Homo sapiens: one gene and its partner. The protein of the gene in region 1 interacts with the protein of each later gene in a pairwise test. Each region holds a gene or a part of one and is shown in the gene's direction. Other genes may lie near its edges.

The links.
Region 2: the proteins of LONRF1 (region 1) and GPRASP3 interact in binary tests that used the Homo sapiens proteins (3 or more experiments, as listed by UniProt).

What each region holds. Positions count from the first base shown.
Region 1 is NC_000008.11:12,735,027-12,738,526, reverse strand, and holds part of LONRF1 (LON peptidase N-terminal domain and RING finger protein 1), read left to right. Parts: intron 1-382; coding exon 383-532; intron 533-1,166; coding exon of another isoform or gene 1,167-1,255; intron 1,256-1,386; coding exon 1,387-1,627; intron 1,628-1,729; coding exon 1,730-1,826; intron 1,827-3,126; coding exon 3,127-3,241; intron 3,242-3,500.
Region 2 is NC_000023.11:102,744,743-102,748,242, forward strand, and holds part of GPRASP3 (G protein-coupled receptor associated sorting protein 3), read left to right. Parts: intron 1-1,236; exon of another isoform or gene 1,237-1,432; intron 1,433-3,074; 5' UTR 3,075-3,169; intron 3,170-3,500. UniProt on the Homo sapiens protein: Survival and differentiation promoting protein that plays a role in the regulation of neurosynaptogenesis. Induces phosphatase PP2A activity which results in APP dephosphorylation and inhibits BACE1-mediated processing of APP.

The sequences.
Region 1 (3,500 bases):
GTAAATATACATTGAGGTGAACCATGAACTATTTTGATAGCATAGGGCTCACTAAGATTCAGAGATAAATATTTAATATGTCTTTTAAGATCTTTTTATAGTCTTTGTGTTGAAAGATCAGCCTTTATCCTGAGTCTTACTACTCCCATGCTTTCCTTTCAAAGTTTTGAATCATTTGTTTGCGGGTGATTTGACCCCATGAGGCACACCTAATTTTGCAAGACTTTTGAACTTACAGTGTTGCTTACCTTGTTCCCCTCCTGCTCATTAAAAAAATGTCTGCTACAAACTTTCTACATATTCTTTATTAGGTAAATTTATACAAAATTATCCTTAACCAAATATTTTATATTTTCTACTACTTTTAATATTTCTCTTACAGATTTTATGTGATTTATTATTACCTGAAAACTTAAAAGAAGGCCTGAAGGAATCTTCCTGGAGTTCATTACCATGTACTAAAAACAGACCTTTTGATTTTCATTCAGTGATGGAAGAGTCTCAGTCTCTCAATGAACCTAGCCCAAAGCAGGTACGGGGTGAGACAAGGTTATCATGAGTTTAGCGTATCCATTTCTTTACGAGTTAAGAGCTTCACTTTCCTAGTTTCAAGTACTAGCACCTACTTAAGTACTTTTAACCTGGTTAGTTATCATAGTAGAATTTTTTCCATAGCCTTTACTTTACACTAAAATCTTTTATGTAAAATATTTGCTAATGAATCACAATTTTAGGTCCCGTGAAAGAAAACTTTTAGTTCTTTAAAAATATGTATAGAACATTGCATTTATGTTTCCTCAGGGTAGTAACAGCTGTGTTATAGCATAACTACTTTTAAACCTCATTATAACATAAGTCACCTTGATTTCTAGGGCTGTGTAAGTACAGTCATCCCTTGTATCTGTGGGAGATTGGTTCCAGGACCTCTCACAGATAGCAAATCCAAGGATGCTCAAGTCCCTGATATATTAATAAAATGGCACAGTATTTGCATATAACTTATGCACATCCTCCTGTATACTTAAATCATCTCTAGGTTACTTATAATACCTAATACAATGTAAATACTATGTAAATAGTTGTTATACTGTATTGTCTAGGGAATAATGACAAGAAAAAAGTCGATATATGTTCAGGCTTTTTTTTAGAATATTTTCTATCCCCAGTTGGATGAACCCACGGATGCAGAGCCTGTGGATACGGAGGGCCAACTGTGCTGGCAAAAATCATTTACTTGTCACAGTGTTGGAATCAAGTTAGTGCTATTAAATGAACATTAAAATGAGCATTATAAGGCATTGAAATTTCATTTCAGTTTGATTCTTGGTGAGAGGAATAAAGGATAGTAAAGAAATACAGTTACCTTTGTTTATTGTATTTTTGTAGAGTGAAGAAATACCAGAGGTCACTTCAGAGCCTGTCAAAGGAAGCTTAAACCGTGCTCAGTCAGCACAGTCTATAAATTCAACAGAAATGCCTGCCAGAGAGGACTGTTTAAAAAGAGTGTCCTCAGAACCTGTTCTGTCAGTTCAAGAAAAAGGTGTTCTGCTGAAAAGAAAGTTGTCTCTTTTAGAACAGGATGTGATTGTAAATGAAGATGGAAGAAATAAGCTGAAAAAACAAGGAGGTAAAAATTTTGCTCTACACTTATATAAAATAAATTTATTTAGTCAGAATAGTCTTTAAAGTTTTTCCTAAGGAAGAAAACCCCATGTCTTTGTTTTAATAGAAACTCCCAATGAAGTCTGTATGTTTTCCTTAGCTTATGGTGATATTCCAGAAGAATTAATCGATGTCTCAGATTTCGAGTGTTCTCTCTGCATGAGGTAAGCATATAAAACTTTATAGAAGATGAATATTTTATGTTAGTATACATAAAATACCGTGTAGATAAAGGTAATAATAGACAATGTAAAGTAACACAATGCTGGAATAAAAATCAAAAGACATGAATTTTAGTCCTGGGTTTACCTTTCATGCCTTGGGCAAATAACTGAATCTCTGAACCTCAGGTTTCCTAATTTAGAAAGTGGGATCAAGCTTTGCATGGCCTACATCTCATTGTTGTGAGAATCACATGGCTTCAGTATAAAAGGAATCTGGGAAATTGTAAAGTACTAAGAAAGTTATAGATGATATTATTTTTGAAACTTACCTATCTCCATGGTTTTAAATTTGGGTATGAATTCTAATTAGTATTTTATGTATATGATCCTATCTTATTAATGTATATTAACCATAAAGTCTTTTTAAAGTAACATAAGGATAAGGATTTCCATTATTCAGAATGCTATAATTCTAAAAGACTAAATGTTTTGAAATAACATTTCTCATTTACATGAATTGTGTAGGATCAAAAGATTCATACGGGGTCAGGAGGCCTAGTGCTGGTCACACTAGGCTGGTAGCAGTTACATTCCTGAGCAAGTCTTAATTCTGAGCCTTGGTTTCTTCATCTGTGAAGTGAGGGGATTATACTAAACAGTCCCTAAAGTACCTCTAAATCTATTTCTAGCAAATTCAAAACTATCATGTTTCAGAAAATAAGTAAAACTAGTTGTTCTGTAATGTTTGAATAATACATTTAGTATTAAGTCTAACATTAGGATTCAACTGCATTATTTATTAGGTCATTCTTTTTATGAGTTTTATATCATAAGGGTCTTATAAACCTATTAAGGAATCATTTTTAAGTTGATATTAAAATGGGAATCTAAAGGCTATACAAAAGCTAACTAATGATTTTTAATGATGTATTTTACATTATTTATTTTGCAGAAAGTCTTTGAAATCTGGTATGTATTTTACATTCAGTGCACATATCAGCTTGTACTAGCCACATTTCAAGTGATTAGTAGCCATAGTGTCCAGGGGCTGTTGCGTTAGTCAGGACAGCTCTAGGCCCTTGGCTCTAGGCCTTTGGCAGGAGGCCTTTGTTGATGGAGAATTTTAAAACATTCTGGAGGGTATGGTTACACTTATCACTGCCCTTTCTCTCCTCTCCTGCCTGCTGGGCCCTCCTTCTTCCTCCTTTAAATAGAGATTAGTGTTATGGTTCTAAAGTAGTACAAGCTTTTCAGTGGATAGTTTAATGTGAAAACTAACATGTATCTTGGTTGATTTCAGGTTGTTTTTTGAGCCAGTAACAACCCCTTGCGGACATTCGTTCTGTAAGAATTGTCTTGAGCGTTGTTTAGATCATGCACCATATTGTCCTCTTTGCAAAGAAAGCTTAAAAGAGGTAAATATTTGTATATGTGTCTGTTTGTTGGTCTTAAGTTTGGCAGCATGGTTTAATTTCTGTTCAGCCATAGAAATAGTGATGATCACGTTCAGAATTACATTCTATATTCTGAGTGACTAACAAGGATAATGTTTTATTACCCATATGCTAATGTTGGAGAAAAGTGAGGTTGAAGAGGATGGGGAGAAAGAAGACAGATGCTGAAGACCAACCCCCTTGTACTTAATTTTTTTTTTTTAAACAAAAGTGGGTATGG
Region 2 (3,500 bases), on another chromosome or scaffold:
CTCTGGGCTAAGCCCTGGGGTTACAGGCAGCAAAGACACACCTATGAATTAGCATTGATCTGCAAACCACAGAGGGTACCATGGAATTGTCATGATTCAGTAGCCCCTCACCTCCTTCAACCCTTGACTGACTATACCGTCTACAATGTGCTGAGAATACAGTGGGGAACAATACCAAAAGGGTACTTTCATTCAGGAAACTTCCAGTCTAACAAGTCAAACTCCCCATCGCTTGGAAGGGAGAGTAAAAAAATATATATATATTCAGAAGAAAAAAGCACATGCATGCATTAGGCAGGGTGCAAGGCTGGGAGAAAAGGAGGAGTTGAGGAGCGCAGCTGGAATCTGGGATCTGCCTCGAGGAAGTGCGCGAATAGTGGTCCCCTCTCCTCCCAGAACAGTGGAGAGGCGCCAAGACCATCCCTACCTGGTGCCATCAAAGAGAGAGGACTGTTACGACCTCCTGCGAGTCCTGACAGGGAAAGGCCCTCTTTTGGGGTCAACTGTGGGGACGGCGCAATGCCAACCTGAGCCACCATTTGAAATGAGAAAAAGCGGCGTGGCAGAAAGAAATGAGTCTGGTACAGACCAGTGGTTGGTTTCCTAGGGTTAGAGGTCTAGGTCTACCTTCTGTTAGAAGAGGGGCAGTGGTGAGGCCTTGATGGGAGCCCCCTGCCCCAGAATTCACTTAAGAGCAGGTGTACCTTCCTCCCCTGCGTGGCTCCATGAAGCTGGGAAAGAAACGCACAAGAGGACCACCCTAGAGGCCCAGGCTTGTTTGGCCTGAAATCGCCTCACCCCTCCCAGACTGCACTGCTGACACCCCCTCTCCCATTAGCTTCCAGGAAGGAGAGTGAGAGGGCTGGGGAGAGGGAAGGGGCAGACACCCAGCAGTCCCTGGTTGGGGAGTTGGGGCGGGGGTGCAGACACACCAAGGGGCGGTTTGGTATCCATCCGCTGCTCCCTCCAGCGCGGCTCTTCCCAACCTCCTGATCCTGTCCCCTGCCTGGGTCCCCAGCCGCCCGCCCGTCCCTATATTATAGCAACGCCAGAAATGTGGTGGTGGTGGTCGCCACGTTAGGGTCCGCGGGGGTCCTCCTGAGGCAGCCTGGTGCCAACCCGCAGGCCCAGGCTGGGGCTCGTCATGGCCCCGCCCACCTCTGGGTCGGAACTAAGGTGGGCCTGAGAGGGGGGCGTCGAGCACTTTCGCGCCGTATCCCTCCGCCCCCCTTCCCGACACCCTCGCGGAGAGAGCGGTTCTTGCAGCATCCTGCGCAGCCCCTGCCCAGTTTGGTGCAGAGGCGTGGGGGGCGGGACGCGTCTTTGCCATTCTGATAGCGGGGAAAGCGGTGAGAATCGAAGTGAGGAGCCGCCAGAGGAGAGCTGAGGAGAGGAGGGGGAGGTCGACGACCTGGGCCCTGGGCCTCTGAAGGCAAGTGGGGGTGCGTGAGCTTGGGGTGGTCCGCCAGGGTGGACCGGCTGGCAGCCTGCCCCGCCGACCCTGACATCCTGGCAAGGAGGAGACGATCCGGTCGGAGCCGGTCGCCGGAGAGAGGTGCGCAGTGCTCGAGACCCCTGGCGATGGGGAGGCGGTGACCGGTGCAGGCCGAGCCAGGCCAAGGGCTGAGGGGCTGGCTTGAGAGGCACCGTCAGATCGTCTGGAGGAGAACCGCGCTGACCGCCTCCAAGCCAGCTTTGCAGGCGCCGGCGCCCCGCCCTCGACGGTGTCTGTGCCCGGAAAGGGCTGTGGGGGAGCTCCTGCGGGAGAAATGGCGGAGCGGGAGCCATTGTGGGGGGCTCCCGGGAAGGCCGGGGGGAGCCGGCGTCCCAGCTCTGTGCCCAGCCCACGAGAGGTGGGCCGCGTTCGCTACTCGGGGCCCTGATTCCGGAAAGGGGCCTGTGGGACCCCGTGTCTTGGGTGCTGTCCCTTCCCACAGGCTCCAGGTGGTTGTTAAAGTCTCCTGTCTGCGTGATAGGTCTGTTGGGTTCTCCAAAAGTGGAACTTTGAGTGGGTGAATTATGAAGACACTAAAATGAAATGTTTAACCGCCTTTTATAATACCGCACTGTTTTATTGCCTTACATATTTAGATCCCCACATCCAGTTTTGTGCAAGCAAATAGGGTGTGGACTTAGTCGAATTTCACAACAGTGGTCCATGTAAATAACAGGGTAGTATTTTTCCACCTTTCTTGTTCAGGATCTGTTTTCTCAACATGCTGATCCACTTTAAGTAATGTAATGATGTGTGAGAATGTGGGTTCCGAGTAGAGGGGTAATCTTTTTGAAGGGTCAATTTAGAACATTTGAAGTCAATCTGCTTCTTCAGTTTATGGTTCTGGAAACCAAAACTCCATCTCCAGCCACTCCTCACAGACCCTCTCATTTTGGTGCAGAAATAGTCCCACAGAAGAATTCATGGCATTTCTGATGGTGGATATCTGAGGAGCTATGAGAGTTGGGAGACTTTATTTACTTAGTTTCTGATTCTCAAAAAGGAGGTGTTAGAATCCGAATTCTGGGAATCTGTCCATTAACCTGCTATTTTTCTACCATTGTTAACATAGTCTCTTGGGGTTATTTTTTGCTAGTTGCTCCGCCTTCTTTTTGTAGGGCGTGACTCTTCTTTGGTGGGAAGGATAGCATCTCCTGAGAACTCCTGCTGTATAAGCAGGCTGACATAGGTGGTGAATAAAGTAGGATCTAGGTATGCATGGGGAAGGGGAAGGACATGCACAGATGGTATTAAAATAACAGTCTCCATTATGTTCCCTGCCTGCCTTGTAAGTACAATTGCCTATGTTCCACTACCTATTTCTGCACCTCATTTTTTTTGGTTCAGGAAAGGAGCTGTAACTTCTATTGGGAAAATGACTGACTTCAAAGTTGGCAGGAGGTGTAATCAGGCTGCAGGTCTTGGGGTGATTAGGGAATCATTGAGGAAGAGCAGACAGGTGGGAGACATTTAACATAGCCTTGAATATTCAAAAGCATATGTTATAATCCTTGTTATAGGCATTAGATCATCTTAGTCTCTTCTGTTTTCTTTCCTCTGCCTTCCTTTCTATCCTTAGGTCTGTTTCTTTCTAGGTTCCTGTAGAGATCTGTATGTAGCTGTTCACTTGGAAGTTAATTAAGAAAGAACAAAAACTATTCATTTGGATTCAAGGTAGGTTTATGTGTGAGCACCCCCGTTGATTGGGGTTATGGAAAGGCTGTTGCCAAGTGGGTTAGACCAGATCATATCTTGGTGCCACTGTCTTCCATCTTTCTAGTCACCTCTGACCTCACATTTGTGTACAAGTGATGGGGTGGGGTGAGCCAGGATTATGCCTATGAGGTAATTGGTAGATATTGGGGCAGGAAATGGGAAGATAAGCCACAAGGAGTACTAGGAGGCCAGAAGTGTTATATAACCAAAGCCCTAGATTTGGAAAGGCAGAAATTGGGTTTAGAGATTAGAGTGTAGGTCTGTCAACCAAATACTCAGAACTCCAATC